Regions from separate parts of the Homo sapiens genome. Here region 1 is linked to region 2. The links come from fine-mapping of genetic effects on gene expression. Tissue or cell type: whole blood. Region 2 holds a variant in brackets; the other region holds the start of a gene. All regions are shown on one strand. Distances are between the middles of the regions. Region 1 holds the start of PLA2G12A (phospholipase A2 group XIIA). Region 2 overlaps PLA2G12A (phospholipase A2 group XIIA).

Region 1 (16,800 bases), 23 kb before region 2:
TCCAACTACAACATAAGACACATGACAAGAGAGACCTCATTTGTCTTCCTTCTGGCTACATCCCTACCACTTGCCTCATAGAGGCTGCTCAGTGAATAAACATTAGCTACTCTTTTTTTTTTTTTTAAGCACAGCTATCTTTATCCTGAAGACAGACATATATGTTTCACATAAATATTCCCTTTATTATTTTATTTAGGGCCAGTCTTGGATAGATCCCTACTGATTTAATAATATAAATACCCATTTTTACATATATTCCAAAATCAGTTACTGCCCAGATTTTCTTTTAAAAATTGTGGTAAAATATGTATAACATAAAAGTAACAATTTTAACTATTTGTAAGTGTAAAGTTGAGTGACATTAAATACATGCCCATTGTTGTACAATCATTATCACCATCCATCTGCAGAAAATTTTCATCTCCCCAAATTGAAACTTCATATCTATTAAACAATAACTCACCACTCCTCCCTCCCATGCTGCCCAGATTTTTCATCCATTAAATTCAGGAAAGTATTTGGTTATTTATTGCTGGGAAGTTCCCCTTCCAGTCTCTCATGCTGTTGCCGTCAGACAGGATTGGACCAGAGTTATCACGAAGGCTTATTCACTCATGTGTTTGGTGCCTGGGCTGGGCGGACTTAGACAGCTGGGGCTTCTCAGATATGTCTCTCTGCACTCTCCCCATGGGCTCTTAACATGGCAGGGCCGGGGGCACCAGACTTCCTACATAGCAGCCGATGAGCCTCCCAAGAGAAACTGCAGAACCTGCATGGCCTTCTCTAACCCAGCTTTGGAAGTCCCTTAGCATCACAAAGACCTGCCCAGGCTCAAAGGAAAGGAAATAACCCATCTCTTGATGGCGGCAGGGAGGAGGTGTATCAAAGAATTTATGGACATATTTGAAAACCACCTTGTCCTGACTCAGCAATCCGGGAGCAACGCAGCACCTTAGAATATGTCTGTGTATGAGATAAAAAGAGAAAAGTGGCTGGGCGCAGTGGATCATACCTGTAATCTCAGCACTTTGGGAGACCAAAGTTGGTGGATCATTTGAGGTCAGAAGTTTGAGACCAGCCTGGGCAACATAGCAAGACCCCATCTCTATCACACACAAAAAAAGCTGGGAGTGGTGGTGCACATCTGCAGCCCCTGCTACTTGGAAGGCTGAGGTGGGAGGATCATTTGAGCCCAGGAGGTTGAGGATGCAGTGAGCTGTGATTGCAGCACTGCACTCCAGCCTGGGTGACAGATCAAGACCTCGTCTTAAAAAAAAAAAAAAAAAAAAGAAAAGTACTCCAGTGCTACAAGGTGGGAAACCCAGCATATAGGGCATCCTCAGCCAATCTAGGAAGGGGGCCCCCAAAAGGGCCAAGCCAGTCTGCACAGTGACCTAGCATCTGGCAGCTTCACAGAAAAGTAGACCAGGGTCAAGCCTTGAAGGGTGAAAGTCAGCCCTCTGAAGCGACTCTATGTGACAGAGACCAGGAACAGCAGGAGTGAGATGACCTGACTCCAAGCTTCTCCTAGTTTAGAGGTCTGTCTCAGCGCTCCTAATTCCAGACTACAGAAGCCAATCTAACTGGTTTAATGAAAAAATAGATTTATTCAAAGATATTATGCAGTTCACAGAATTTCCAAAAGAGCCAGAGAATTGGAGTCTACACATCTGGAAATAACGCTCACAGACCACACTGCAGGACTGCTCCATCAGAGACTACCATGGCCACTAGCATGGGTCCCAGTCTCCACGTACAGCTTGTACTGCAGAGCCTGGGCACTGGACATTGCTGCTTCTGTGAGCTCGCCTGAAGGTGGCCAGGGACACAACTCATTGGATGTGGAGCTCTGCCATCGTCTTATATTTAACCCTGGTTTCAGAGCTCTCTGTCTTACAAGAGAAATGGGAAAATAAATTATGCGGCTGCACCTTGCCAGGTACAATGGTAAGGAAAACTAAAGGGAGATCTAGAAACCAGCCTGACATATTAAAGAGGGCTTCTGCAGAGGTGAGCTTAGTCTGAATTATGGAAGAACTTTCCAGGCAGATACAAATGCAAAGGCCCTGCAGTGTGAGGAGCTAACCACACACAAGGATGGAGAGCAGTTCATAGTGACTGGAGCCCAGGGTGCAGCTAAGGAGCTGGAGAGGGGGAAAGGCCATACCAGGGAGAGCCTCATACCAAAGAGTTTGGACCATTAAAGGATTCTAGGAAGTTCAAGCTGGAGACAGCAAGGAAGATGTATTGGAAGTGGGTGAGAGAGGGTATGGAAGATGGTTAAGACACTCTTGGAGTAATCAAATGAAAAATAATGAAGGTAGAAACTAAAGCAGGGATAAAAAGGATGGCACTGACTCTAGATATGTTGAGTGAAATAGATGGCATTTGGGGACAAATAGATTACAGTACTAGGGAGAGGGATTTGAGACTAGGATAATTCCCAGTCTCTTAGATGGTGAGGTGATTGGTGTTGCCACTGAGTACAGAAAGGAAGGAAGTAGAGGAATGGAATCAGATTTAGACAGTTAGGGATATTTTGAAGTTGTGATGTCTAAGGAAGCCCAGTGAAGGTGTACAGTACGTGATAGGAAATACGAAGCTGAAAATCAACCAGAGGTTTGGAAGTAGCCAGGAACCCTAATTAGAAGAACTACATACGGACTCTGTCCTGATGGCTTAAAACCCTGCAGTCTCAACTAAGTGGGTTCTTTCCATCCCTCCTGTGTGCCAAGCAATCTTACATTGTGCATACAAAGATACCTTGAAAATATCTTTTTGATCAAATTTTCTTGATGGTAGACCCCCCACCATACCCAAGCAGAGGATCATTGTCTTCAACATATTATGGAACAAGCCCATGCTCATAGATCTGGTGCAGCCATCTCTTGCCCTTCACTTTGTCCCAGCTTGAAAGCTATTAATGCCATTGACTTTCTAGCCAAAGGCTGGAACCTAGTACTTATTTCTCTTTAACTTAAGTTCCCTTTTAGAGATGAAACTTCTAGCCTTGGTGCGGTGGGAAATTAAAGAAATAAAGAAAAATAAAATTAAAAAGAGAAAGAAGTAAGCTTTCCTGTATTAGGCTGACTCATCCCAAAGGCAGTAGCAGGCAAGGCCCAGACCCAGGAAAAAGAGTCTTGATAAACACTATCTAAGAAGCTAGGACACAAAGGAATGTGCTCTGGAGACTCTCCCAGCACTCCCTCAACATAAGGAGAAGAAAAACAAATTTTCCTTTCTCTTATAGTATGAGTTTATAGATTTCTGTTCTCTGTAACTAGCAACTTCAAGCATTCTGTTTTATCTAAGTAGTGGAGTGAAGGTCATAAACTGTCTGAGCAGGCCTGAGATACAGCCACCTGGACGCCATAGTGAAGGTCATGGAATAAGCTGTGCTAGGCACTAAAGGAAAACCTAGATAACTGACATCTGGGTTGCACAGCAACGGTCATGTGTAATCCTGAGTTATGAACCTGTCACAATTTGATTAATTGCTCTGCCTCTGTATCCTTGCTTTCACACCACTGTAACTGTAAGCCTGCTTCAAGCTAGCCCACTCCCTTTTTGAAGTGTGTATAAAAGTCAAGTGCTGTCTTTGTTCTAGGCCCAGTTTTCCAGATGTAAGTCTGAGTACACTCAATAAAGATCCTCCTGCTTTACCCCGAAGTCTCTCTCATCCGCCTGATTCCCGCGACATTGGCACTAGCCATAGATTAATCATTATGGATGGAATTGCTTCACCATGTGGCTTTTATTTTCATCCTGGACAAAAATTAACCATTATGGCTGGAACTGTTTTCACCACGTGGCTTTTATTTTCATCACAACACTGCTGAGGCCATTAGTGAGACATTGGAAAATACTAAAAAATAGAAATTGCTGTTTATCATTAATATTTTATTGATTTTTGTTATTTAAAATAACACAAAGCATTGTGTAATATTGTAGTTTCCAAGCATTCTAAGTTAATGTGGTACGTTAAACCCCACAAATTTTGCATTCTCATCTCATCAATACTACCATGTTTTTCCATGATGCTCATATATATAGAAGAAACCATTTGGTGTTTCTAGAAGAGATCTGAGATCTGACTGCCTATCCTGATTATTGTTCTGGGAAGTTCTATATAGAAAATATAGTGTAGGGCTGGGTGCGGTGGCTCATGACTGTAATTCCAGCACTTTGGGAGGCCAAAGCAGGAGGATCACTTGAGCCCAAGAATTCAAGACCAGCCTGGGCAACACAGGGAGACCCCATCTCTATAATAACAATAACAAAAATTAGCCAGTCACAGTTGTGTACACCTGTATTCCTAGCTACTCAGGAGGCTGAAGTAGGAGGATTGCTTAAGCCCAAGAGTTCGAGGGTACAGTGAGCTATGATCATGCTACCCCCACCTGGGTGACAGAATGAGACTCTGTCTCTGAAAAAAGAAAAGAAAAGAAAGCCAGTCTTGGCCACCCAGAATCTCCCATTCCAAGGTATTTATTAATATATCATTCAGACAAGAATAAGCACAAATATAGTATATTTTATATTTTCATAATTTATTTTGATATTCACTGTAATTGCATTTCTTTTCTTTTCTTTTTTCTTAGACAGACTGTTGCTCTGTTGCCCAGGCTGGAGTGCAGTGGCACGATCTCAGCTCACTGCAACCTCCACCTCCTAGGTTCAAGCAATTCTCCTGCCTCAGCCTCCCGAGTAGCTGGGATTACAGGCACCTGCCACCACGCCCAGGTAATTTTTTTGTATTTTTAGTAGAGACAGGATTTCACCATATTGGCCAGGCTGGTCTCGAACTCCTGACCGTGTGATCTGCCCGCCTTGGCCTCCCAAAGTGCTAGAATTACAGGCATGAGCCACTGCGTCCTGCCTGTAATCGCCATTTCTAATTCTTTTCTTCCTCTGACTACAACTGTGTTTTCTCCCTAGTACTTCAATGAGACTCTTGTGAAGTTCACCAATAACCCCCAAGTTACTAAATCTAGTAGTCAATATCCGGCCCTCACCTTCCTCATATCAGCAGAATGGGTGGTTCTGTCTTTCTTTGACACACCAGAATATAGCACTTTTCCACTTCTGCTGCACTTGGCTGCTCCTTCTTAAGCGCCTTTGTTCTTTTTTCCTTGACCTCCTAAGACTTAGACCTTGCTCTGCTTCTTTGTGTACACTCACTTTTTAGAGGATCTCATTTAGTCCCATGTTATTTATTTATTCATTTATTTAAGACAGGGTCTTGCTCTGTTGCCAGGCTGGAGTGCAATAGCGCAATCTTGGCTCTCTGCAACCTCTGCATTCCGGACTCAAAGGATCCTCTTACCTCAGCTTCCCAAGTAGCTGGGACTACAGGCATGTACCACCATGCCTGGCTAATTTTTGTATTTTTTTTATAGAGATAAGGTTTTGCTATGTTACCCAGGCTGCTCTTGAACTCCTGGACTCAGGCGATCTGCCAGCCTTGATCTCCCTAGGTGCTGGGACTACAAGCATGAGTCACTGCGCCCAGCTAAGCCCCATGACTTTAAAAGCCATTTCTATTCTGACAACTTCCCAATGCGTTTCTAACCTTTATGCTGAACTGCAGACTCAGAATAAGCTTCTTGGATATGGTATGACTGAAATTTATTTTTAAAATTTTCCCGCAAAACCCTCTCCTTCCACAATTCTCCCCATTTCTGACAGTTAGAACTCTCTCTATCCTGTGGCTTAGGCCAAAATTTCAATGCCATCCTTGATTCCTCTTTTTCTCTCATATTCAGTCCATCAGCAAATCCCTTCTGCTCTACCATCAAGTTACATCTAGAATATGACCACTTTTCACACCTCCACTGCTCCTTTCCTGGACCAAGCCATACTTATGCCATACCTAGATTACTGTATCATAACTGACTTCCTATCTTCAGCTTCTGCCCACCACAAAGTATATATAGACAAGCTAGCCACTCTCTAGCAGGAAAGACCTGGAACACAGCTGTGGATTTGCAACTAATGATGTCTGTCATGAAAATAACAGGTTTTGCTGGTTAGATGAAAGTGTCCTGTAAAGAAGGCTCTTTTCAAACAGTTTATGCCAAAATTTGGGAAGAAAAGATGGAAGTGGGTCATCTAGAAGTTACGTGAGATGAGCTGGGCACAGTGGCTCATGTTGTAATCCCAGCACTTTGGGAGGCCAAGGCAGGGGAATGACTTGAGGTCAGGAGTTCGAGACCAGCCTGGCCAACTTGGTGAAACCCCATTGCTACTAAAAATACAAAAAATTAGTCAGGTGTGGTGGCGGGCACCTGTAATCCCAGCTACTCGGGAGGCTGAGGCAGGAAAATAGCTTGAACCTGGGAGGCGGAGGTTGCAGTGAGCTGAGATTGTGCCACTGTACTCCAGCCTGGGCAACAGAGCCAGACTCAAAAAAAAAAAATTTATATGATATGGTAAATCAGAGCATGCATCCTGTGTAGTGGCACAAGGCCCCACAGTCAAAAGGGCTCTGTACTTATTTTAATGCTCTGCTGTTATCACCTTGAAATTCTTTTTTTTTTTTTTTTGAGACAGAGTCTTGCTCTGTGGCCTCGGCTGGAGTGCAGTGGCACGATCTTGGCTCATTGCAAGCTCTGCCTCCCGGGTTCACGCCATTCACCTGCCTCAGCCTCCCGAGTAGCTGGGACTACAGGTGCCCGCCACCATGCCCAGCTAACTTTTTGTATTTTTAGTAGAGACAGGGTTTCACCGTGTTAGCCAGGATGGTCTCGATCTCCTGACCTCGTGATCTGCCCATCTCAGCCTCCCAAAGTGCTGGGATTACAGGCGTGAGCCACCGCACCCGGCCATCACCTTGAAATTCTTAATTTTTGAGCAAGGGGCTCTGTATTTTTATTTTGCACTGAGCCCTACAAATTATACAGATAGTCTGTGGTCAGTGCAGATCCCTGGTATTTAACAGCATCAATTAAGAGGAAAACGTAAACCTTGTAATTACTGCAGCAGAACAACAAATATATAATGATTAAATGTGAAAAGAATGTGAAAATAAAACTTAGAGTCTTGTTTTCTACAAAAATGGTGGTGATTCTCATGGGGAAGACAGTGGAAAGATTTGCTTGAGAGAAAGAGAACAGCTGCATCAAGCCAGAAGAACTGGCATTTGAGAATTTAATCCCTAAGGAGAGATCAGACAAAGAAAACTACGTCTGATTCCTCAGAGTATAGGCTGTAGTTAAGGTGTAAGAAATTAGATGAGATCACAAAGAAGTAAATAAATAGAGAAAGTGGGGGAAAGGAGAGGCTTTGGGTCATAACTGAGGGCTGGAACTAGGTTATTTTATTACATTCTATCCTTTCTTTTGAAAGTCTTGTCCCTGGACTAGGGAGTTGTAAGAACCAAGCCTGGTTTAAGGATTCAGGTGGTGGTATCTCAGAGGTAATCTAGTCCAACTTTCATACTTTGGAGCTGAGAAACCAATGTTCCAGAAAGCTAAGACAATGATTCTAAGTTCCCTTTTTAAAATGTATTGAAATGTGTTGTCTAAAAATTAAAAAATAAAAATATCTGTGGTATTTTGTGAAGACAGAGGCCTTGGTTTGGAGTAGATACTGTCACATGACTTCTCACCTCGACTCTTTTATTGTAAAAGAGGAAGATAATAATACCTTCCAGGGAACATTCTTCCCCCTTCTCCATTGTGGTAGGAATTAATCACTGCCCAAGACTCCTGGTTGAGGGGCTGAGTGAAGTGCAGGCAGTCTCCAGCCAGGAGCTACACCGTTTGTTGGGCTACCCTGTTTGTAGGGAGGAATGCCTTTCTATGTTTCTAACTTGCCCAAAGTCTGCATCCTTGTAAAGTAGTGTTCTGAATGTGAGCGATCATATTCATGAAGTGCCTGGCACATAGTAAGCACTCAATAAAGAGGGATGTAATTTTTATGAACTGTGCACTGAACGTTTATTATAAGCTCATTTAGTTTGTAACAAACACAAAAGGCCAAACCTAGAACTTATTGGTAATTCTTATAGAAAGGACACACCTATGCCCAATACTTACTCACTTTCTTTTTTTTTTAGAGTCTCGCTCTGTGCCCCAAGCTGGAGTGCAGTGGTGCAATCTCAGCTCACTGCAACATCCATCCACCTCCTGGGTTCAAGTGATTCTCCTGCCTCCGCCTCCCGAGTAGCTGGGATTACAGGTGCCCGCCACCACGCCCAGCTAATTTTCTGTATTTTTGGTAGAGATGGGGTTTCACCATGTCAGCCAGGCTGGTCTCGAACTTCTGACCTCAGGAGTTCCAGGCCTCCCAAGGTGCTGGGATTACAGGCGTAAACCACCGCGCTTGGTCTGCCCAATACTTTCAACATTGCTCTGGATCTTACTGTAAAATTCTTGGAAACTGCTGTGATACTAAGATAACCAGATATTTACAACTGATACAAAGTACTACTGCAATAGTTATTTATGGATCCCGCACAATGCTGGGGGCAGGGTGGTAGGTACAGAGAAACAAACGTCACTGTAACTATCAAGTTACAAAATCCCTTGAGTAGAAAAACAATGACTTCCTTAAGATTTATTTTACTTTTTACTGTATTTAAGTTTACACTACTGTTTCTTCCTTACCAGGGGAGAATTTTATGATTTTTATGTTGGCCCATTTTCTTTTTCCGGAAAGTCTAAACTAGCATTTAGCTCGTCCTGATTAGAGTCAGGCACCGCCAAGGCATGGGTTGGCATCTTCCAGATCCCGCTCCCCCAACCGCGGCCACAGCAGATCTGGAGGACCGGGAGAGGACGCAAGGAGGAAAAGCCCTGCTCTGCGAGCTGACAGCCGGACTCTGCCCACATTGCCAATGGAACCACGTCTTCAAGCCGGAAACTCAGCTGGACCTCTCGCAGCGCTCTCTGCGAGGGGGCACAGGGGTTATTTTCTCCGATGTTGTCCACACCCAGAAAAGCTTGTCTCTCGGGGCTACTGTGCTGAGCCCCGACTGGTCAGGTTAGGCCACCGGGGTTAGCTCTGCAACTCTTGCTTCACGGTTAACAGCCCGGAGAGCTTTCTTAAAAAATACCGACGCCCACTGCCACCTGGGACAACGTAATCAGGCTCCCTAGAAAAGGGGCTCAGGCCTGGGTACTTTTTAAGGTTCTCTTGTGAACCAGGACCAAGGGTCTTGGGAGGGTGCCGCGGAGACCACGTGGGCATGGAGGCCCCGCCCCCGTTTCCCGCCCCGCGCGCCCCTCCCCCGGTTCCCCGCCCCCCCCAACCCCGCCCCCGCCCCGCCCCACCCCTGCGCGTCCCGCCCCTCCCGTGCGCCGCTGACGCGCCGTGCTCCGGCGCAGGCGCACAGGGGACGGTTGCTGGCCCAGGTGAGCGGGCGCGCTGGTCCAGGTGAGCGGGCGCGTCCCCGCGACGGCGCTGCCTGCCCGAGGCGGTTCACGTAAAGACAGCGAGATCCTGAGGGCCAGCCGGGAAGGAGGCGTGGATATGGAGCTGGCTGCTGCCAAGTCCGGGGCCCGCGCCGCTGCCTAGCGCGTCCTGGGGACTCTGTGGGGACGCGCCCCGCGCCGCGGCTCGGGGACCCGTAGAGCCCGGCGCTGCGCGCATGGCCCTGCTCTCGCGCCCCGCGCTCACCCTCCTGCTCCTCCTCATGGCCGCTGTTGTCAGGTGCCAGGAGCAGGCCCAGACCACCGACTGGAGAGCCACCCTGAAGACCATCCGGAACGGCGTTCATAAGATAGACACGTACCTGAACGCCGCCTTGGACCTCCTGGGAGGCGAGGACGGTCTCTGCCAGTATAAATGCAGTGACGGTGAGGGGGCACCCGGGCCCAGCGAGGGCTCGTGCTTTCGGGGGATTGGGGTGACGGAGATCCTGGAGGTGTGAGTGACAGATGCAAGGCAGACCTTGACGGTGTCCTTCGGCTGTGGAAAAACTTAACCACTGCTAGAATCTTGCCGTTCTAGTGATTGAGCAAGCTGGGTACAAGTTCGCACCACTATTGTTAGAATGTGAGAGGTCACATTCTAACGGAGAGGTGTACCCCCCGTCCCATTTGCATTGCTTCTGAATTACCTTTTCCCCCCCTCAATTGCACCAAGTTGCCGAAGAACTTACTGACGTAGGAATCATGGGAATAGAGTGGAACAGACTGGTTTTAGCTCATTTTTGCTTCTGTAAATTGGATGAACATGCGAAGCAAACTGAGAATTTAAAAACCATGCCGTATTAACTTTCTCTATAATTGATATTAAATGGTTTTTTTTCTGCAAACCCATAGACAATAACTTGCGACCTTTGTACAGACTTTTGGTGTACTCGAGTGTTGAGAAAGGGTTCCGATAACTCTTCTTTCCTTAGATATCAGTGACCCGCCTCCTCCTCATTGTTGGTTAACGTTAATACAGTTATCTTCATTTACTCTTTTAATATTTTTTGAACTTTCTCTTTGAACCTGAGAATTTGTTTGGTGGCGGTATGAGTACTAATCAACTCAGTATTTCAGGCAGAGATAGTTCTTTTGTAGCACATTTTTGAGTGCTTAAATATTTTAATAGGTCAGAAAAATATTGGACTTTTGTTTGGAAATTGAAAATGTTAAGAGAGCAGTTGGGAGATCATGTTTCCAATAAGATTAGCCAAGGTTAGAGTCTCATTATGCTGGCAGCGGAAAATAATCGGGGATCCAGTGACTTCATTGTTGGAACCTGATTGTATAGGTGAACTTAAAAGGAACTGGTATCATGTAAACCTATGATGCCACATGCTGCCTGCAATTTTCAAGATAATTTCTAGTTTTATGTTAATAGAAGTAAAGGATGAACTGTATCTTGTATACTTTAAAGCGCTGAACAGGTGCTGAGACATGTTGCATTGCTTCTTAAATTTGTGCCTAAACGTTACCACCTAAACGTATGCTTCATGAAGATGTTTTTATTCTTGTAGAACTTGTTCGGAGGATTAAGTGCATAATTTAAGGATCAAATAGTTGCCTTTCCTAAAGCAAATGTTACAGTTTTACTTAGTCATTCCTATTCATTATACAAATATTTGAGTCCCAACTGTGCTTCAGATGTTGTTCTAATTTGAGATTCAGCAGTTAATAAAACAGACAAAAATCTCTGTCCGTGGAGCTTGAGTTCTGGTGAGGGAGAGATGGGCAGTAAACTAGTAAATAAGTAAAATTAGGGGAAGTGTGGAGTCTGATCAGGGCAGACGAGGGGCCATGTTGGAGGCAATTTACTCTTCTAAATGGGTTGTTCAGCAAAGGCCTCACTGATGAAAGAATATTTGAGAAGAAATCTGCACGTGGTAAGGGGAGGGAATGTGGTTATTTGGAGAAACAGCATTCCAGACAGAGGGAATAGCAAGTGCAATGGACCTGAGGAGAAAGGCCAGTCAAGGATGACTCTGAAGGTTTTGGCCTGAGCCAAAGGAAGGAAACGGTTGCCATTTACAGAGATAGGGAAGACTTGGAAGGAGTCGTCTTCATAAATTTATTAGTCTAGGGTTCTAGAGTTTATTTACATTTAAAACATGCCTGAAGTTGAATGAATACCAGCCTTGTTAAAATACTGTTTTAGTCTTTTTATTTTATTTTTTGTTAATATTTTTGAGGCAAGGTCTCCCTCTGTGCCCAGGCTAGAGGGCAGTGGTGTGATCATTGCTCCCTGCAGCCTCCAACTCCTGGGCTCAAGCAATTCTCCTGCCTCAGCTTCCCAAATAGCTAGGACTATAGGCCATGCCCCCACTACACCTGGCTTAATCTTTCTTTTTAATCTTTTTCATCTTCTACAGGCTTCTCAAAATTTACTATTTGGAGTTTAGAGGAAGGTCTCTGGCACAAAAAAACACAAAGGAATTTGAGAATTTAAGAAATGTTATATGCCTCAGTGAAAAAAAATTTTTTGTCTTAGTAAGTACTCTACGTTTAACGGACATGTGGTTTCAAGTCCAAGTCACCATACTGATAGATAATTGGATCTCAATGAAAAAAAAAATTAGGCAGGACGTAATGGCTCATGCCTGTAATCCCAGCACTTTGGGAGGCTGAGGCGGGCGGATCAGTTGAGCTCAGGAGTTCGAGACCAGCCTGGCCAACATGGTGAAACCCCGTCTCTACTAAAAATACAAAAATTAGCTGGGCATGGTGGTGCACACCTGTAGTCCCAGCTACTTGGGAGGCTGAGGTAGGAGAATAGCTTGAACCTGGGAGGTGGAGGTTGCAGTGAGCCGAGACCGTGCCTCCAGCCTGGGTGACAGAGCAAGACTCTGTCTCAAAAATAATAATAATAATAATAATAATAAAATTGCTGTTACTCGAGCAGTCTCTCTGGAACAATTCAACCTTTCCTATATTTTGGAATTCAGGTGACCAAATCAGAACCAAACAGAACAATCCCAAATCTGGAGAAACATGGTGATTAAGGGGTATTTTTAGTTGCACGAAAGAGATCAAGAGAGCTTTAAAAAAAAAAAAAAAGAGTGAGTTAATGGTAGGGAGAGGTTGGTCAAATAAAGGGCACATGTCCTTGCTTTACCTGAGGGACTGGCATTATGGAGACTTGCTCCCTTAGTTTTGGCCATCCTCTCTTGGGTAGGAAAAAGGCCTTATTGAGAGTTAAGTATTTAGGGAAATAAATTTGATGATCCGTTATTTTCTTCAACTTTTTTCTCCCTGACAGCAAGGAAGATTTAAGGAAGAAAACTTTTCGATTTCCTTTGAAAAATAGAACACAAAACTGGCTTGTAAATGTTTTTAGAATGATGAATAAGTCATTAATTAATTCAGTGACGTATGTTTTCTAGGATCCCTCTGGCTGTTGTGCTGAGAACAGAAGGGGTCAAGGGAGTGGGGGAGTAAAAATGGAAGCAGGGTGACGCATGCAGGAGTCCAGACAAAAGACGGGTGATTTTGCTCAGGTTGGTAGCAACAGAGGTAATGAGAAGTAGTTGGATTTTGGATATATTTTGAAGGAAGGACCTAAAAGATTTGCTGATGGCTTAGAAGTTAGGTATGAGTTAAGTCAAAAATGATACCACAGTTTTTGGCCTGAACAACTGGAAGGACAGAATTACCATTAACTGATATGGGGAAGACCGTGGAAAGAACAGTTTTCGGGCATTAGGAAAAATAATAACACATTTGTATGCTTTTGAGAATGGTTCAGTGGAGAGTAGAAATACTGACGAGGGAGAGAATTATTGGAGTCATAGCCTTGGGTAAGTGAGAGGGGGTAGTTTCTAGTACATACTTAGAGAGTTTGGCCAAGAGCATATAGCATAGCCCTGTTAATAGGAACACAGGTAGAGGATATGAGCACTGGTGCTGGTTAAGTGGGTGGATGTTCAAGTTCTCCTGATTGCCTGCTTTTTTCAGTAAAGTAGGAATCCAGGTCATCAGCTGACAGAGAAGATGGGGAATGGGGATGTTGGAGATTTGAGGAAAATATAAAAGTGAACAGACTAGAAAAATAAAGTAATATAAGGACCTTTTGGAGATTAATGATCATGAATACTTAAAGTCTCAAGTGTTTGGGAGTGCAGGTTGGAATCTTACAAAACTCTGCCATGAGACCTTTGTGTGACCCAGCAGACTACTTCTTGTGCTTGTCATCTGCTTCATATTCTGTCAGGTGAAAACAGTTGGTCTATCTGGAAGTATTTGCATCAAATTTAGAAAAAATACATGGAAAATAATCAACTTTGTCTCAGTCTATGAAAATCTTTAGATTTCTGCAGTCCATACAAATGATAAACAATCAAGAGAAGGAGCTATTGCTTAAGTCAAAAATGGAAATTAATGAATAGTCTTTCCATGCAGTTGTACACAGTGGATTTGGTTTGTATCCGCTTACAAATTTTAGAGGACAATGGCCGCAACACATCATGGTGTTTTGATGTTACTCTGATTTTGTTTCTTCCATTATTGAGTTTTTGCTTTATTTGTAAAAACTGGCACCAGTAGAAATGCTAATTTTTAAAATGCTTAGCCATTTATAAAACTATAACAAAATTTAAAATATTAATACATTTGTAACATTGGTGTCTGAATCAACTTAACCTCTAATAAAGAACTGTCTATATAACTTGCCTTGTTCAGAAATAACTATTTTAATTTAAAGGTGAATTTAGAATTTCAAAATACTTTAGAATTTCTCAGGAAACTAGTTACTTCCAAGTTTTCAGTTTTTTGCTGTGGATAAAGAATTATTTTAATTTCATCAAAGAATGTTTCCCATTTTTTAATCTGGTAATTTATTGGGTGCCCACTGTGTGCTAAATATCTTCTAGGTGAGCAAGACTAAGTCCTTTCTTCATAGAAACCGACTAATGTTAATGTTAATTAGGTCAATAAATGCTAGAAAGAGAGGGGGTGCTATTTTAGATTGGGTAAGCAGGGAAAGCCTCTCTGAAGAAATGACATTAGGAGTTTGCCTTGAAAAAAACTAAAGAACCATACACATATGCCCCTTTTGCCATTTACACTGGGGAGCCAAACTTTTTACCAGCATTTATTTCATGGTGTTATTATCCAGTTTTTCATGTACAGTAGATGTTGGCTCTTTATTACTTGATTTTTATCAACTTTTCTTCTTCAGACAGTTATAACCACTAGCCCTGTTTGGCACAGCAGCCTCCTACTTCCTTGTACCTCCATTCTCATTTTTGCCAGTTGTCCTTCTCTGTACTATCTCTTCCTCTTTACTCTCCTATGGTGGGCATGTTTTTAGTTTTTCTGACTTCATTTGTGTCTGATCATTCTCCCATTCAAAGGTAATTATCTCTTATGAGAAAATGTCTATATATGTACACGCATGCATACACATATATATGTATCACTGTCATTACACACATCATCAGCATCAGGAATGTTTTTATAGATTTGAAATCAGAGTCTATGGATTTAGATAAAATACAAAAGGAAGGAAAAATAGAAGTACTGCTGTTGTATGTACATTGAGGGAAGTATCTTTCTGATTAAAAAAAAAAGGCCGGGCGCGATGGCTCACGCTTGTAATCCCAGCACTTTGGGAGACTGAGGCAGGCGGATCACCTGTCAGGAGTTCAAGACCAGCCTGACCAACACGGAGAAACTCCATCTCTACTAAAAATACAAGATTAGCCAGGCATGGTGGCGCATGCCTGTAATCCCAGCTACTTGGGAGGCTGAGGCAGAAGAATCGCTTGAACCCAGGAGGCAGAGGTTGCAGTGAGCTGAGATCATGCCATTGCACTCCAGCCTGGGCAACAAGAGCAAAACTCAGTCTCAGAAAAAAACAAACAAACAAAATAAGACAATTGAGACACATGTCTTTAAAGCCATAGGCCCATATCGGTTGTCTGAGGGTGGTAATCTTTGCTTCTCATGGAACAGGGTGAGGTGCCAGAAATCTCTAGACTGGCAGATGGGAGGGAGGGAGAATGTACAAGGTGTCTAAAAAGTTGGAAACATAGGATAAACATTATGTTTTATTTTCAAATGACACACTCAATATGTTTTTCATTAACCACTAGACACTTTTTTAGATGATATACTTCTAAATTTAAAACAGTCCAGTTGTTAACCTGAACAATATATATTGTAAATACACTATTATTCCTGTTTCCAGACTTTTTGAACATTCTCTGGTGTATTTATTGTACTTTTTTCAGATTAACAACTTGACCTATTTCTTAGTGTGTATCTCTAGATATGTTTCTAAACATTTTGAACAGTTGATTGTCAAAACCCCTGACGAAAGAGAGTTTCATGATGAAGCTTGAGGAACTAGAATGGGCTTCCCAAGAATTAAATGCTGATCCAGCCTCCTTTTCTGTGAAGAGATTTATAGTGTGTTAGGGCAAAGAAAACTATAGATAAATGTATAGTTTCTCATGATACTCCTGTGAGAAAAACTGGTTACTATTTGATGACTTCACGGCTGCTTGGAGAGAGGACTCATCTGTAGTGGACCTCTGTCCTGATTAATATCTGCATCTTAAGTTTGTGAATATCTGGGAGCAACAGGCAACACTGGGTGAATAACTCTAGATTTAAAAACTGCTCAGCAGTCGAGAATGGTGAACTGAAACTAACAAGATTGAATCTTATATACAATCTTATATTTAGACTCAAAATTAAATTGCAGAAGTGCTAAGCCTCTAGCAGTAAGTATTAAAAAGTCCATTTTAGAAAGAACTGATGATTTTTTTTTTTTTACTACTGTCTATGTTAGCAGTCAGGCACAGCTGAAACATACTGTGTTAGGCTGTTTTAATACAAGTACTTTATCCAGCACAAAAGGTTAAAAAGCCCATCTTACCCTACAGTGTTCAGTCTGAGGTGCTGTATTTTAAAGAGATGTGACAAGCTAGAAGTCATCAGTCTTTGGAGGCTGGCTGATGAATGCTCACCAAGCCCAAAAGAGACTCTAGGGCAAACAGCAGGGTTTCTTAACGGATAATCTCCATTTATAATGAATATTCCAAGCCTTCCAAGTCTTCTGTTCATTAATTCATCACATACTTATTGTAAAAATTCATCACAAAGTTATTCCAGGCACTGTTCTAGGCATTGGGAATCCAAAACACAAAAATGTCTGCTTTCGAGGAGTTTACATTTTCGGATGGGGAGACATAATAAAATAGGTAGATTAGTGATATAGTATGTTAGAAGGTCATATGTGCTACAAATAGTATGGTCAGGGAAGACTTGCTGAGAAGGTGAATGTCTTAGTCTGTTCAGGCTGCTGTAACAAAATGCCTTAAACTGGGTGGCTTATAAACAATGGAAATTTATTCCTCAGTTCTGGAGGCTGTGAAGTCCA
Region 2 (16,800 bases):
AAGAGTATAGCACACTGGATTTGGAGTAGGAATTTCTAGAAGACTTGTCTTATGGGTTTCTGTTGGGAAGGTCCCCAGATGACCCCCAGGTTCAGTGATTTACTAGGAGGACTCACGGGACTCAGCATATAGTTGTACTCACTGCCATGAGGTATTATGGTGAAGAGATAGAAAGCCAAACTAGCAAAGGGAAAGGGCCCTTTGGTGTCATTTTTAAAAGAATGATGATACTCACCTCACAGAGTTGTCATAAGGATGAAGTGAAGTATTTGTGGAAATACAAATAAATCACCATTCAAATACTGGTAGTTATAAGATTTCTCTACTGTCAAGCCAAAGAACATATCATACACTGAAATCAGAAGAGGCAAGGCAGGAAAGGAAAATAACATTTTAAGCACTTTCATAAGATACTGTGCTAGATATTTTATTCATGTTTTCATTTGATGCCAACAAAAACCTAAAGAGGTAGGTAGTGTTATCCCCATTTTTCAAGGAAGGAAACGATGGTTCAGAAAACAGTAACTTGCCCCAAGTGAGCATTTAGCCTGACTTTAAAATCTGTGTTCTGTCTATTATACAGTATTCTCCAAATAGTCTCATATTATAGCCCTGATTCTAATATCCTAATAATTCATGTCAAGGAAGAAATCTCTGCTGCAGGTAATCTTGAATTCACAGCCTCTGTATCCCTTTGCAGCTTTTGGCTAAGGTAAACTAGCTGTAAACCTGAAGCATAGATAGATTTATTTCCTGTTTTCTGATTTAAGAAGAATGTGAAACCAATCATCTTGTAACCTCCTATTTAATAGTCATAGCCTCTCCACTTCTGTGGTTGGTTGTTTCTTAATGGCAAAGTCTTTTGGAGAACTTTGAAAATGTTAAGATTTTGTAATGACAAGTTTCTTCCTTAACATGAATATTTTGAAACGAAAAGTATTTGGATAACTAAAAGCCACTCTGTGCTATATCTCTGTAAGTGTAACATGTTAAGATAATCTCACCTGGATGTTTCAGGTTTCTTAGAATAAGAAAAGTAAATAAATTACCTTTTCATAGTCTTCAAAAAATTTAAAAACCTAACTGGGGCCGGGTGCGGTGGCTCACGCCTGTAATCCCAGCACTTTGGGAGGCCTTGGCTGGTGGACCACTTGAGCCCAGGAGTTTGAGAGCAGCCTGGCCAACATGGTGAAACCCCATCTCTAACAAAAAATACAAAAATTAGCCAGGCGCCTATAGTCCCAGTTACTCAGAAGGCTGAGGTGGAAGAATCACTTGAACCCAGGAGGCAGAGGTTGCAGTGAACCAAGATCATGCCACTGCACTCCAGCCTGGGTGACAGAGTGAGGTGAGACCTTGTCTCAAAAAAATAAATAAAATAAATAAATAAATAAATAAATAAATAAAATAAACCTACCTGACTGGGGAAAAATACTTTTGATTTATATGCTCCCATATCCCCAAGTCAAATTAGGACATTGGTCAAAGAGATTGGATTCCGTTTACTTTAAGCCTCTTAACTGATGTATGATCAGTCCTCAGAAGCCATTGGCCATAATGAAATGTTTTGAGATTTCAATTTTTAAACTTTGTTTCTTCCGCACATAAAACATTTTTTCTTAAAATGCAAATTTAAGAGTATTATCAGACAACTCTGTTAGTGATTATGTTTTTCAAATAAAAAGAAAGTTAAAACACTGATTAATCAGTGCTATTTTAAAAGACTTTTATTTGTCTAGTTTAAACAATTGGGCCAGGCATGGTGGCCCACGCCTGTAATCCCAGCACTTTGGGAAGACAAGTCAGGAGGACTGCCTGAGTCCAGGAGTTTGAGACCAGCCTGGGCAACATAGTGAGACCTCATATCTACTAAAAACAAACAAACAAACAAACAAACAAACAAAAATAGCTGGGTGTGGTGTTGTGTGTCTGTTTAAAATTAAAAATTAAATTTAAAAAATTTAAATTAAAAATGAGCTGGCCATGGTAATGCCAGCTACTCAGGAGGCTGAGGTGGAAGGATTACTTTAGCCCAGGATGTGGAGACTGCAGTAAGCTATGACTGCACCATGACACTCCACTCTGGGTGTCAGAGTGAGACCCTGTCTCAAAAAAAAAAAAAAAAAAAAATTGGGTTAAACAGTTGAATGCAAACAAAAAATAAGATGCATGAGACTAAAACTGGAAATCTGTAGATATATATGTGTGTATGTAAATATGCTACAGGTTGTGAGAGTTTGGTGATTTCATCTAGCATACATTTCAGTGCTCACGAGGGATATGCTTGTTGCTGTGCTGTAATGTGTAACATAGGTGAAAAGAGCAATGCAGTTGCCCAACAGTAATCCCATTTTCTTGTTTTGCAGCATGTGAAACAACAGTGGAGCTCTTGTTTGACAGTGTTATACATTTAGGTTGTAAACCATATCTGGACAGCCAACGAGCCGCATGCAGGTGTCATTATGAAGAAAAAACTGATCTTTAAAGGAGATGCCGACAGCTAGTGACAGATGAAGATGGAAGAACATACCTTTGACAAATAACTAATGTTTTTACAACATAAAACTGTCTTATTTTTGTGAAAGGATTATTTTGAGACCTTAAAATAATTTATATCTTGATGTTAAAACCTCAAAGCAAAAAAAGTGAGGGAGATAGTGAGGGGAGGGCACGCTTGTCTTCTCAGGTATCTTCCCCAGCATTGCTCCCTTACTTAGTATGCCAAATGTCTTGACCAATATCAAAAACAAGTGCTTGTTTAGCGGAGAATTTTGAAAAGAGGAATATATAACTCAATTTTCACAACCACATTTACCAAAAAAAGAGATCAAATATAAAATTCATCATAATGTCTGTTCAACATTATCTTATTTGGAAAATGGGGAAATTATCACTTACAAGTATTTGTTTACTATGAAATTTTAAATACACATTTATGCCTAGAAGGAACGGACTTTTTTTTTCTATTTTAATTACACATAATATGTAATTAAAGTACAACATAATATGTTGTTTCTCTGTAGCCCGTTGAGCATATGAGTAAGTCACATTTCTATTAGGACTACTTACAAGGACAAGGTTTCCATTTTTCCAGTTGTAAAATTGGAACCATCAGCTGATAACCTCGTAGGGAGCAACCCCAGGATAGCTAAGTGTTATGTAATATGCCTAGAAGGTGATGTGAATGCGATTCAGAAGCATAGCCACTCCCATTTTATGAGCTACTCACATGACAAATGTCATCTTTTGCTATAACCTTTGCCAAGTTAGAGAAAAGATGGATTTAATGAGATAAATGAAAAGATATTTAACCTAATATATCAAGGCACTATTTGCTGTTATGCTTTGTTATTTATTTCCCAGCACTTGTTCCTTATTGTAGATTTTTTAAAGACTGTAACCTTTTACTAACTGTGGTCTTACTAAAATTTGTGCTTGATACTGCTTTTCAAAAAGCCTTTAATTAGAGCCAAAAGGATGGAAAAGGCAAGATATAAATGCCTTTTATAGATCTCTTATTTACATTGAAAATTATTACCATATGTTTAGAGCAAATCCAAGAAAACTTCAACAGCTTCTGAAGATGTCTATGAATGTTGAAAACTTTTCAATCTCTTGGAATGCTCAGTTATGTTCCTAGACCGGTCTTTGCTGACTACTGGTTGTTAACCTTTCCCTAGCCTGGGACCTCAAGCCATATATATCCTTTGGGTGACCCATGGCCAAAGTTATTAAGATGAACTGACTTTCAAAGTCAGAGAAGGACAGCATAGGGAGAGGCGGTTATTTGTAAGTCATTACAGGTAGAACAGGGCAGAAGGAAAAGTATGTTCTGGAGAAAGGGCCATGTTCCTAACTTTGGAGATATGTCATTGCCGGGAACCTAGTATCTTCCAACTTGAATTGGTGGCAGCTGTTCCAGTGAGACAAGGCACATGTATGCCTTGTGGCTAAGTGAGCAAACTGGGTTTCCACTTAAATGTTTGGGACCCTCAATTGATTCTTTATTTCAAACCTTTATAAAAGGTACAGTTTTGTAAGCCATTATTAATAATTAATGCTTATCGGCTGGGCACAGTGGCTCACACCTATAATCCCAGCACTTTGGGAGGCTGAGGCGGTTGGATCACTTGAGGTCAGGAGTTTGAGACCAGCTGGCCAACATGGTGAAACAGCGTCTCTACTAAAAATACAAAAATTTGCCGGGCGTGGTGGCGCATGCTTATAGTCTCAGCTACTCAGGAAGCTGAGGTACGAGAATCACTTGAACCCAGGAGGTGGAGGTTGCAGTGAGCTGAGATTGTGCCACTGCACTGCAGCCTGGGCAACAGAGCAAGACTCTAAAAAAAAAATGGTTTATCAATATTTACTATTGAAATATTTGTCCAGGTAACTTTACACTTACAATGAATTCATGGATTTTGTTAGCAGCATTGGCTTTCTCAAAAGGACAAACTCAATATCGTTATAAAATATAATTCGTGATCACAAATTATACAAAAATCAGTAGAAACAGTTTTTTATGTTCAGATTAAAAAAAAAAACTTGGGATAATTTTAGATTTACAGAAAAGTTGCAAAGATACATGGAGAGCTTCTGTGACCACTCACCCAGTTCCCCCAGTGTTAACCTTTTATTTAACCATGAAGCATTTGTCAGAAGCTAAGTAACCAGCAATGGCAATTACTATTAACGGAACTTTGACTTTATTTTTCAGATTGTACTAGTTTTTTAATTAATGTCATTTTTCTTTTCCAGGATCCAATCTAGGATACCACACTGAATTAGTCGTCATGCCTAATTAGCCTCTGGTCTGTGATAGTTCCACAGTCTTTCTTTTTCATAACCTTGACAGTTTTGAGGAGTACTGGTCAGGTGTTTTGTAGAATATTCCTCAATTTGGGTTTGTCTGATGTTTTCCTCATGGTTAGAGTGGGGTTATAGATTTTTAGGAAGAATACCAGAGGTGAAGGTCCTTCTCACTGCATCATGTCAGGAGTTACATGCTATCAGCTTGATGGTGTATTAACTTTGGACACTTGGTTAAGGTAGTGTGTGTTGGTTTTTTGCTGCTGAAAATTACTGTTATTTTCCCTTTCCATACTTCTGTTCTTTGGAAAACAGTCACTAAGTCCAGTCATGGGAGGTGGTGGGTGGGAAAGATTACATTCAACCCCCTGGAAGTGGGAATATCCATATGTAGTATTTGGAATTTTTCTATATGGAAAATTTGTTTCTCCCTCCCACCCTAATTTGTTTACATCAGTATGGACTCATGTATATTTTGTATTTTGGGTAACACAGTATTTATTTTGTTGCTTAAGTTGTCCAGCTTGGCTATTAGGAGTTCTGCCAGGTTGGCTACTATGTCCCTTTGATGTGCCCATCCTTTTGATTTTTGAGCACTTCTTACTTTCTGGCACTACAAGATGCTCCAGGTTCATCTTGGATATTCCCTGCCCCAACCCTAGAATCCCTAGAATCAACCCCTGCTCCAAAGAGCCCTGGTTCCTTTTGTTGGAGAATCATACTTAGAAACCAAGATCTGGGCATTAGATGTGCTTGTTGCTACTGGGATGTCACTGTTTGTAGCAGAGTTGAGAAATATGTATGTATATTAATCCATGCATATGTACACATCTATAATTATTTATGTGTGTACAAAGCTAAACATGAGTTTGTACTGCCGTCTTCAACTCAAAATTTGTCCCAAAATTTTGTGGCATATGTTTAGATTTTAAAGTTGATATTTTCCCTATTGACAGAATAAACTCATTAAAAGAGCAAAAAAAAAAAAAAAAAAAAAAAGGCAAGAACTAACTGTCAGCAGCTCTTTGCAAGAAATGTAATATTGATACTTTAAAATAATACTGCCTTCAAATGATGCCTGTCTCTTTAAAATCTTTTGACATAGTTCTTCCAGGGACAGATATGGCTGTATTTATTTCATAGATGGAGAAACTGAGCACAGAGCTGTAATGAAGACAGAATTGAGATATAAGGGCAAAAGCTAATTAAACGCATCCTCACAGGTAGCCTTTCTTTCAGTGAACCTGTAGACTAGTCCAGTAATACTTATTAAAATTAGTTGTTAGAGGCTGGGCATGGTGGTTCAAGCCTGTAATCTCAGCACTGTGGGAGGCCAAGGCGGACAGATCACTCAAAGTCAGAAGTTCGAGACCAGCTTGGCCAACATGGCAAAACCCTGTCTCTACTAAAAATACAAAAATTAGTTGGGTGTGGTGGCACATGCCTGTAATCCCAGCCACTCGGGAGGTGAAGGCACAAGAATTGGTTGAACCTGGGAAGCAGAGGTTGCAGTGAGCTGAGATTGCACTGCTGCACTCCAGCATAGGCGTCAGAATAAGACTCTGTCTTGGAAAGAAGAAAAAAAATTGTTAGCCTAAAACCAACTCTCTCTAAATTTAAAAGAGTGATTATTTATCTTAGTATTTATAGAAGTATGAGATTATCAGAAGGTGCGATGCACAATGCTCATTATTTTATCCTAGTACAAGACACGTATAACATCTAACAGTAAAGAAGATGGAATCTTTCTATAAAAACAATTCTGTTATTAATAGTTGACTGACTTCAGTAACTTTGAGGAGTAGAATGAAACTTATTAGGCAAGATCTTTCCACATACACTACATTGTATTGTTCAAAATTCATAGAAATTACTTGCAATATATTGATTTAAGCCTTATGTAGTGACTGTTGCTATATTTGAAGTAGCATTTTTAGTTTGCTGTTTTTCCTCACTGCTTAATCCTACAAAAACCAGCCATCTGCCTAAAAAATAAAAGAGCAAAAATGAATCAGTGCAACCGGTATACGAAAAATAATAATTATTAATAAAACTGTAAAGGGATCACTAGTGTCATCTTTTATATATGTCACAATGATGTTAGACTTTTTGCCTCAGGCTTACTTATTCAGTTTCCATAACATCCTTCAAAAATCTCCTTGTTGACAACTTGACAAACATTTCTCTGTTGGCTTTCAAGTTTTAAGTATAGCAATCAGAATCATCATAGAAATTAATATTTCTATGAATTCTGTAAGAAAAAATATTAAACACCAAAATCAGTGACCAAAATTTTTAAGTTGTAGAATTATCTCTGAACTTAACTTTATTCCCTATATTTCATTCCTATGATAGGTGACAAGCCAAGACCTTCAGTTTTAATAAGTTCCACTTTTATTTATATTTTAAAATAATATATTGCCTTTGAATAATGCCTATCTCCTTAAAATCTTTTGGCACATTTCTTCCAGGGACAGAGATGGCTGTTTATTTCATAAAGGAGACATTGAGCACAGAGAAGCTGTAATGAAGACACGATTGAGATATGAGGGCAAACCAGTTTCAATAAGTCACTTTTATGGAAAACTATTCAGATATAGGAAGAATCAAGTCATCCTGTCAGTTAACTTAGTGTATCTGAATTTTAATGGATTTGCTGTGGGAATATTTTTCTTTGAGAGGGAAGAGAGTGCTTGGTAGGATTCCAGTCTATGTTGGTGGTTCTCAAACATGAGCATGCGTGAGACTCACTGGCAGGCTTGTTAAAACACACTGCTGGACCCCACCCCCAGAGTTTCTGATTCAGTAGGTCTGGGGTAGACAGGAGAATTTGCATTTCTAACAAGTTCTCAGATGATGATACTGCTGGTTCATAGACCACAGCTTGGGAAGTAGTTTAGGTAATCTTCAGTGCTGAAAATAACTAATGTACTGAAAGCTTGCTGTGGGTTCAGTACTTTCATAGGAGTTTGCAATTTACTGTCTCAAAAACTCTGGAATAGATTTGGACCTCATTTTACAACAAAGAGTTTGAAGCTATGAGAGGTTAAGTTGCATTACCTGTCACATATCTAACAGCAAATAAAATGGGGAAGCCGTGAGTAGAACCTGGGCAGCCTGTTTCCCAGTCCCAGGCACTCAGCCATTTTATTGTGGCTAGCTGTTGCTTTAAGAGGCTAAAATTATACATTTGTAATTCTGAAATAAGTACCCAAGAAAATGTTCTGTATTTATGTTTTTAGACAAAATCCTGATCAGTGGTGAATAAGGGGAAAAAAAGGTAGACAAAATATTGTTTTAAAATACTTAACCACATAGACTATAGTAGTAATGTTGAGATAATAAGATACTTATGGAGAAAAAATGACAAATTCCTTCCATCTGCTCTTTTCAGATAAGTAGAACGTCAGCCAACTGGAGTTCCACTCTTGTCGAGGGAATGTTTTCAGGACTCAGAGACCCTGAAAGTGAGGCCAAAGGACTGGAAGTTCTGGTGGTCAGATAACTCATTCAGACTGGATAAAAGCCAGAGTGTAAATGTGAAAACCCTGAATTGTAGTCAATGGCTAAATATTGAGCCACATGCAAGGCAACTGGGGTAGGTAATGAGGAAACCAAAAAATGCCACTGCTGTTTCCAACGAGTACAACAAGATGGTAATAACCAATATTCATTGAGCTCTTCACATGGCAGGCAGTATTCTGAGTCCTTCACAGTCACTTAACCCAATCATCACAACCACCATACAAGGGAAATATGGAAATTCCATGTCTTTGTTGCAGGATAAGTTACTAAGACAGTGATTTCTGAAATATTTTATGCATACAATGAACAGTAAATGGTTTGAGTAAAAACCCTTCTTTGATTTCGTACTCTAATGACATCAAGACTTGAACCACAGGCACATGTAGAAGTTACCAAATTAGATTTTTTCTCTCCCAAATAATAGTATGAGATGAGTTCCTTATACTTATTTCTTAAGTATTCATTATACTTATTTTAATATATTAGAAGTGGTGCCTTAACACATTTTAATTTTTTTCCCACTCTAAGGTTGCTTACTTTTAAAATTACAAGGTCCAGAGGAATTACAAAAGATAAAGCCACCGTTTCATCAAATCTGAAAGCATTGTCAAAGTAAATTTTTTACAATAGCCAACCACCCAAGGAGGAGCTAAATTAAATCCAACATTGAGCACCCCATGGCACCTTGTTGGCACACTGTTTGGCTGCTATTTTTGGGGTAGGACAACATGCTCTCCCCAGGAAACACCATTATCTAGAGACCCTCATCATTCTGTGAATTTCTGCATGGTTCTGTCCCTGAATTAGCTCTACCTATGAAAGCCAGATTTGAAAAATCCAGGAGAAGCCAGGTGTCGTGGCTCATGCCCGTAATCCCAACATTCTGGGAGGCCAAGGTGGGCAGATACCAGG[T/C]CGGGAGTTTGATACCAGCCTGACCAACATGGAGAAACCCCATCTCTACTAAAAATACAAAATTAGCCAGGCATGGTAGTGCACGCCTGTAATCCTAGCTACTTGGGAGGCCAAGGCAGGAGAATCGCTTGAACCCGGGCGGCAGAGGTTGCGGTGAGCTGAGATCATGCCATTGCACTCCAGCCTGGGCAACAACAGCTAAACTGTCTCAAAAAAAAAAAAAAAAAATCCAGGAGTTACCTCCAGTTTACTTTGGCCCAAGTTTCATATACAAAGAACATTTAAAATAAGTTACTGCAAGTCCTACAAAGTAACTTGCACTGGGGAAAGGACTACACATGAAACAGGAACATATATGCCACCCCCTATGGGATACCTCAGAGGGATTTCGAGTTTGGTTCCAGACCACCAATAAAAGAGTCACACAAATTTTCTGGTTTCCCAGTGCATATGAAAGTTTTTCATACTAAAGTGTAGTCTGTTAAGTGTGCAATAACATGTCTAAAAAAATAATGTATATACCTTAATTTTAAAATATTGCTAAAAGATGCTAGGGATCATCTGAGCCTTCAGCGAGTTATAAATGTTGGTGTGGGGTATTGTTGAGGGCTGCTGACTGATTAGGGTGGTAGTTGCTGAAGGCTGGGATGACTGGCAATCTCTTAAAATAAGGCAATAAGGAAGTTTGCTTCATTTTTTTGTTTGTTTTGAGATGGAGTCTCGTTCTGTCACTCAGGCTGGAGTGCAGTGGCATGATCTTGGCTCACTGCAACCTCTGCCTCCTGGTTCAAGTGATTCTTGTGCCTCAGCCTCCTGAGTAGCTGGGATTACAGGTGCCTGCCACCGTGCCCGGCTAATTTTTGTTATTTTTAGTAGAGACAGGGTTTTGCCATGTTGGCCAGTCTGGGCTCGAACTCCTGGCCTCCCAAAGTCCTGGGATTACAGGCATGAGCCACTGCACCTGGCCATCCATTGATTGTTCCATTCACTAAAGATTTCCCTGTAGCATGTGATGCTGTTTGGTAGCATTTTATCCACAGACCTTCTTTCAAAATTGGGGTCAATCCCCCCAAACCCTGCCACTGCTTTGTCAACTAATACCCTGAATCCTTTGTTGTCATTTAAACACAATTCACAGCATATTCACCAGGAGTAGATTCTATCTCAATAAACCACTTTCTTTGCTCATCCGTAAAAAGCATCTCCTCATCTATCAAAGTTTTATCATGAGATGGCAACAATGCAGCCACATTTTCAGGCCCCACTTCCAATTCTATTTGTCTTGCTACTTCTGCCACATCTACAGTGACTTCCCTCACTGAAGTCTTGAACCCCTCAACATCAGTGATGAGGATTGGAATTAACTTCTTTCAAACTCCTGTTAATGTGGAGATATATGCATATACCTATGTATAATGTATGTGTGTGTGTATATGTGTGTGTGTATATATATATATATATATATATATATATATATATATATAAAATGGATAGGTATGTTGTCCTGCCTGTAAAATACCACCCAGTGTGCCAATTGAAATATATATAATTTTTAAATATTTATATATGTATTTTATATATATTATATATATATATATATATATATATATATATTTTTTTTTTTTTTTTTTTTTTTTTTTTAAAGAGTGTCTTACTCTGTCACCCAGACTGGAGTGCAGTGGCACAGTCAGCTGACTGCAGCCTCAAACTTGGGCTCAAATAATCCTGCCATCTTAGTGTCCTGAGTTGCTGGGAATACAGGCATGTGCCACCACTCTTGGCTAATTAAAAAAAAAAAAAAATTGTAGAGACAGGGTCTTGCATTGTTGCCTAGGCTGGTCTCAAAACTCCTGGCCTCAAGCAATCCACCTTGGCCTCCCAAAGTGCTGGGTTTACAGGCATGAGCCACTGTGGCTGATACATGTACTTTTAATTTTTCGTTTTTCTTTTTTTCCCCCTCTAGTCTCTAGTTACATACCGTAAGTGGATATTTTGACCTCCCATGAATCACAAATGTTCTTAATGGCATCTCGAATGATGAATCCTTTCCAGAAGATTTTCAATTTACTTTGCTCAGAACTATCAGAGGAATCATGATGACAGCTATAGCCTTATGAAATGTATTTTGTAAATAAGACTTGAAAGTCAAAATTTCTCCTTGATCCCTGGGCTTCAGAATGGATGTTGTGTTAGCAAGCACGATAACAGCATCAGTCTCTGTACATCTCTATCAGAACTCTTGGATGACCAGGTGTATTGTCAATGAGGAGTAATATTTTGAAAGGAACCTTTCTTCTGAGCACTAGAGCTCAACAGTGGGCTTTAAATATTCTCTAAGCCATGCTGTAAATAGATGTGCTGTCACTAACTAGCCTTTGTTGGTCCATTTATAGATCATATTTAGCATAATTCTTAAGGGCACTAGGATTTTCAGAATGGTAAAGGAATGTTGGCTTTAAAGTCATCAGTTGTATTAGCCCCTAACAAGAGCATCAGCCTGTTCTTTGAAGCTTTGAAGACAGGCATTGACTTCTCTCTAGCTATGAAAGTCTTAGATGGAATCTTCTTCCAATAGAAGGCCGTTTCATATACATTTAAGATCTGTTGTTTTGGCTGGGCACGGTGGCTCACACCTGTAATCCCAGCACTTTGGGAGACCGAGGCGGGCAGATTGCTCAAGGTCAGGAGTTCAAGACCAGCCTGGCCAAACATGGTGAAACTCTGTCTCTACTAAAAATACAAAATTAACCTGGACATGGTGGCACATCCTGTAATCCCAGTTACTTGGGAGGCTGAGGCAGAAGAATCGTTTGAACCCAGGAGGCAGAGGTTGCAAAAGATCGCACCACTGTACTCCAGCCTTGGTGACAAAGCAAGACTGTCTCAAAAACAAAAGATTGTTGTTTAGTGTAGCTGCCTTTATCAATGATTTTAGCTAGATCTGGATAACCTGATGCAGCTTCTACGTTAGCACCTGCTGCTTCACCTTGCACTTTTATGTCATGAAGATAGTTTCTTTCCTTAAACCTCAGGAACCATCCTCTCTGCTAGCTTCCAGCTTTTCTTTTGCAATTCCCTCACCTCTCTCAGCCTCCATAGAATTGAAGAGTTAGGGCCTTGCTCTGGATTAGGCTTTGGCTTAAGGGAATGTTGTGGCTGTTTTTATCTTCTATCCAGACCAACTAGAACTTTCTCCATATCAGCAATAAGGCTGTTTAGCTTTATTGTCTTTTGTGTGTTTACTGGAGTAGCATTTTTAATTTCCTTCAAAATTTTTTCCTTTGCATTCATGACTTGGCTTTTCTCCTTTGCACTCACAACTTGGCTAACTGGAGCAAGAAGCCTAGCTTTCTGCCTACCAACATTACTTCCTCACTAACTTAATCATGTTTGCTTTTGATTTAAAGTGACAGGCTCTTCCTTTCATTTGGACACTTAGAGGCCTTTGTAGGATTATTAGTTGGCCTAATTTCAAAATTGTGTTTCCAGGAATAGGGAGGCCCCAGGAGGGGGAGAGAGAAGGGAAAGTTCGGTGGAACAGTCCAAACACATACAGGGCTTATGGATTAATTTCCCCTTCCTTTATGAGCGCGGTTCATGGTGCCCCAAAACAATTGCAATAATATTAAAGATTACTGATCACAGATCACAACAGCAGACATAATAACAATGAAAAATTTTGAAATATTGCGAGAGTACCAAAATGTGACACAGAGACACAAAGCGAGCCAATGTTGAAATACAGGCAGTATCTGCTAAGCGGTATAAAACAATCTATGCCTGTACCTCTAGAAAGTACAGGCATAGCAAAGTAAGGAATAGCAAATGTTTGGGGCAGCTGGGATTAAATGAGTCCGAGCTCACACAAGTGATGTGAAATTGCCTCGGGCTAGGCGGTCTGTGTGTCCCCCCGGGTGGCAACTGGCATGTCCCCAGGGCACGGTTAGTCCCAGCGGGCCTGGAGGCGAAGACCGCGTACCTCTCCCTGCCCCCGCGCTCTTGGTCCCCGCGGGCTCCGGAGCGACTGGGAGGAGCTTTAACTCTGGGAAGGACCAGCCCGATCCACGGGAGCCCGGGCGGCGCGCAATCAGAACCAACTGGCCCCACGCTCGGGGGCAGGGGGCGGGGCCGCCGAGGAAGGGCCGAGGGCGGGGCCGGGCCCGGGAGCCTGTGGCTTCAGGAAGAGGAGGGCAAGGTGTCTGGCTGCGCGTTTGGCTGCAATGAGCTCGGCCTCGGGGCTCCGCAGGGGGCACCCGGCAGGTAGGCAGGGGGCGTCGACTGGGCACCGAGCAGGTCTGCGTCTTGCTCCGGCTGGAGGGGAAACGAGGGTTAGTGGACCGGGCGCGCGGACCGGAGTGGGGCCGCGGGTTCCTTCGGCTTTGCAGGGCGGCCTGGAGAAGTTGCACTCTTGGATTGAAGCGCTCAGGGCGGGTGGGGACGGTTTCGCGCTTCAGTCTAAGAAACACTCGGGGACCTGGCTGCCGCCTCCTGGCGGTCCCGAGTAGCGACGCCGGCGCCGGGGCGTGCCCCTGCCGCCTTTGTCCTCCGGGGCGATGAGCGCTTTCGGGGCGCCCCGGCTGTTTAAACCTTAAAAGGCTGTCCCCACGCGGGCCTGGCGTTCCCCCACACCTGGCCGTTTGAAATGTTGGGGGTTGGATCTTTTGTTTGCTCACTTCGAAAAGTGAAAAGGAGGGGTTGTTCCGCCGAGTCATAATGAAAACATAACAGGCCCGCGGGGTGCCCGGGCCAAGACCCTGGGTCCTCCCGGGCTTCAGCTGGAGGCGGCCAGTTCCTGGCGGCCAGCACACCCCGGTATCTCTCTTCTTCATCCAGGAAACCTGCTGCTGTCTGTCGGTTTGAGCCAAAACCACAATAACTTTTTTCTGCAAAGTAATCAACTGCTAAGAGCGTACGTTCTGTCACTTATTACTGGTAAAGTTTAGAAACTTCAAGCCTGGCCAGAGTGAAACAAACAAAAAGGTCGAAACGCCTGCAGTTGGCCGGCCGTGGTGGCTCACGCCTTGTAATCCCAACACTTTGGGAGGCCGAGGCGGGCGGATCACCAGAGGTCGGGAGTTCTCGACCAGCCTAACTAACACGGTGAAACCCCGTCTCTACTAAAAATACAAAAAAATTAGCCAGGCCTGGGCGCAAGCTACTGGGGAGGCTGAGACAAGAGAATCGTTTGAACCCTGGAGGTGGAGGTTGCAGTGAGCCGAGATCGCCCCACTGCACTCCAACCTCGGCGACAGAGTGAGACTTCGAATCAAGAAGAAAAAAAAAAAAAAAGAACGAAACGCCTGCAGTTGGTTAGAGTGCCTTTGTTTAAGAACTCTTTATATTTTGCTGCACAAAGGAAATGGTGCTCCAGAGGCAAGCTGTAAAAGTCACATGGTCGTAGAGGAGGTAGATAGGTAGCCTTGTCCTGGAGGCACAGTGCAGGGTCCAGTTGCAGTCTCTAGGGGCGGGAAGCCGGGGCTTTCCTTCACTCACCTGCTCCCTTCCTCTTCTTCCTCCACCGCACTCCCCAGTGCATGTTCTAGGCCTGATGGAGGTTACTCTACATAGGGTTACTAAATACATTGTTGATGGAGCCGATGGGTAGATTTTCATAGAGAGTGCAGTGAATGAAGACGATGACAGTAGAATGACCGAAGTCGTTTGGGAAGTTGAACAAAGTTTAGAAAGGTAGCCGGTCTCGGGTGGGAGGGGCTGCGTGGGGATGGGCCTACAGAGACTTTGGAATCTGTAGGTGGGCTGGCTTTCAATCCCAGCTTCACTTTGCCGACCTTGGCACGCCTGGCCCACTTTCTCTGTCCCTGTTCCTGAGCTGTGGAGCTGTGAGATAAGGTATCTAAGGCATCAGGCCATCAACAAATGGTAGCTGGCAGGATTATCTGGAGGGACTATCAAATTAGAGTGAGGTGAAAAAAGGAATGATTAGTTTTGTAAAACCTAAGCTGATTTAAGGAATAAGGAGGTGGCAGTTACATTATCCTGCAAAGGAAGAGAAGTGAAAAGAGGGCCAGACACAGTGGTGGGCGCCTCTAGTCCCAGCTACTGGGGAGACTGAGGCAGGAGAATCGCTTGAAACCTGGAGGTGGACTTGCAGTGAGCCAAGATTGCGCCACTGCACTGCAGCCTGGGCGACAGAGGGAGGCTCTGTCTCAAAAAAAAAAAGTGAAAAGAGGTCAAGAATCAGGTTTAAAGAAGGGCACATTTTTGATAAGTAGATTGCAGATGAAAAGGAATTTCTATATCTGTTATACAGGGTAGCTCCTTCATTAAAATTTATTTTCTCCATATCAATAAAGCTATTTCTTACTTTATCCAGGTTTTTAAATATTAACGCAGGCCGGGCGTGGTGGCTCATGCTTGTAATCCCAGCACTTCCAGGAGGCTGAGGCAGGTGGATCACTTGAGGCCAGGAGTTCAAGACCAGCCAGGACAACATAGCAAAACCCTGTCTCTACTGAAAATACAAAAAAAAAGTAGCTGGGTGTGGTGGCGCATGCCTGTAATCCCAGCTACTCAGGAGGCTGAGGCGGGAGAATCGCTTGAACCCGGAGGCGGAGGTTGTGGTGAGCCGAGACCACGCCACTGCACTCCAGCCTAGGCAACAGAGCAAGACTCCATCCCAAAAAGATAGTAATAAAAAATAAATATTAATGCGGCATAATGATACTTAAGTGCCCCCTTCTGGAAAGCTTGTCTTCTTGGGATACACAGCTCAAGGTGGTCATGATGTGTTATTTTCTCTCAATCTGTGGGTAAAGTTTATCAACTCCAGAAAAGTATTGGAACTTAGGTCCTGGCATCTGTCTCCATAGCTTTTTGTTCTGATTCAGTGTTTGCTAGAGTGGCCACTGGACCTGGTCATTAACTGGTACTGCAGGATGCAGGGTGCACTTTGTGAGAGTGAAGGTAAGTTACAGCTGGCCAGCATCAGAATTGGGATGTCCAGAGCCTAGGTTTTTTTCTACATCCGTAGCATTAACAAACAACAACAACAACAAAAAACTTAAAAAAAAAATCCCTCACTGAGGTTGCCAAATCTGTTAACTTTGAAACTGAATGTATTAAGAGATGGGGTCTAGCTCTGTTACCCAGGCTGGAGTATGGTGACTATTCACAGGGGCAGTCATAGCACACTATGTCCTAGAACTCTTGGGCTCAAGAGATCCTCCTGCCTTGGCCTTCCAGGTAACCGGGACTATAGGCTTGCCACTATGCCCGGCCAGAACGTCATTTTAAACAGATTTTCTTGAGCAGCTACTTAATACTAGTTAGCCATTCCTAAACCTGTAGGTCTTGACTAATGTGAGGGCATATTTGAGACAACCCAAACTCACATCTTAAGTTATTAATTTTAATGTGTCAGCTAACAACTGGGAAGCTACTTCTTTGGCAATATGAGAAACAAGAGTTTTAAAGACCCAAGCAAGAATACATCTCCAGTGTTTTCACCCTGAGGGATATGAGTTAGTTTGCTGAGCAGCCATTTGGCACAGCTTCCATGAGTTAGGTTGTGAGCCGCCTTCGGCTCAGCAGTCA

What was found. PIP is the estimated chance that this variant, and not a neighbour inherited with it, causes the effect.
Region 1: PLA2G12A starts here. The variant in region 2 is fine-mapped to the expression of PLA2G12A in whole blood (TOPMed, PIP 0.93).

What each region holds. Positions count from the first base shown.
Region 1 is chr4:109,722,605-109,739,404 of GRCh38, reverse strand. It overlaps PLA2G12A (phospholipase A2 group XIIA), which reads left to right and starts at 9,335. Exons shown (of 4, transcript NM_030821.5): 1 at 9,335-9,803. The coding sequence starts at 9,596. It also overlaps a transcript of CFI not described here. RefSeq lists enhancers at 8,341-9,217, 9,877-9,946 and a silencer at 9,207-9,546.
Region 2 is chr4:109,700,062-109,716,861 of GRCh38, reverse strand. It overlaps PLA2G12A (phospholipase A2 group XIIA), which reads left to right. Exons shown (of 4, transcript NM_030821.5): 4 at 2,367-6,873. The coding sequence ends at 2,485. It overlaps CASP6 (caspase 6), which reads left to right and starts at 13,417. Exons shown (of 7, transcript NM_001226.4): 1 at 13,417-13,506. The coding sequence starts at 13,467. RefSeq lists enhancers at 12,996-13,045, 13,936-13,995, 14,756-14,815 and silencers at 13,206-13,495, 13,646-13,755. The variant T/C (reference allele first, on the strand shown) is at 9,247.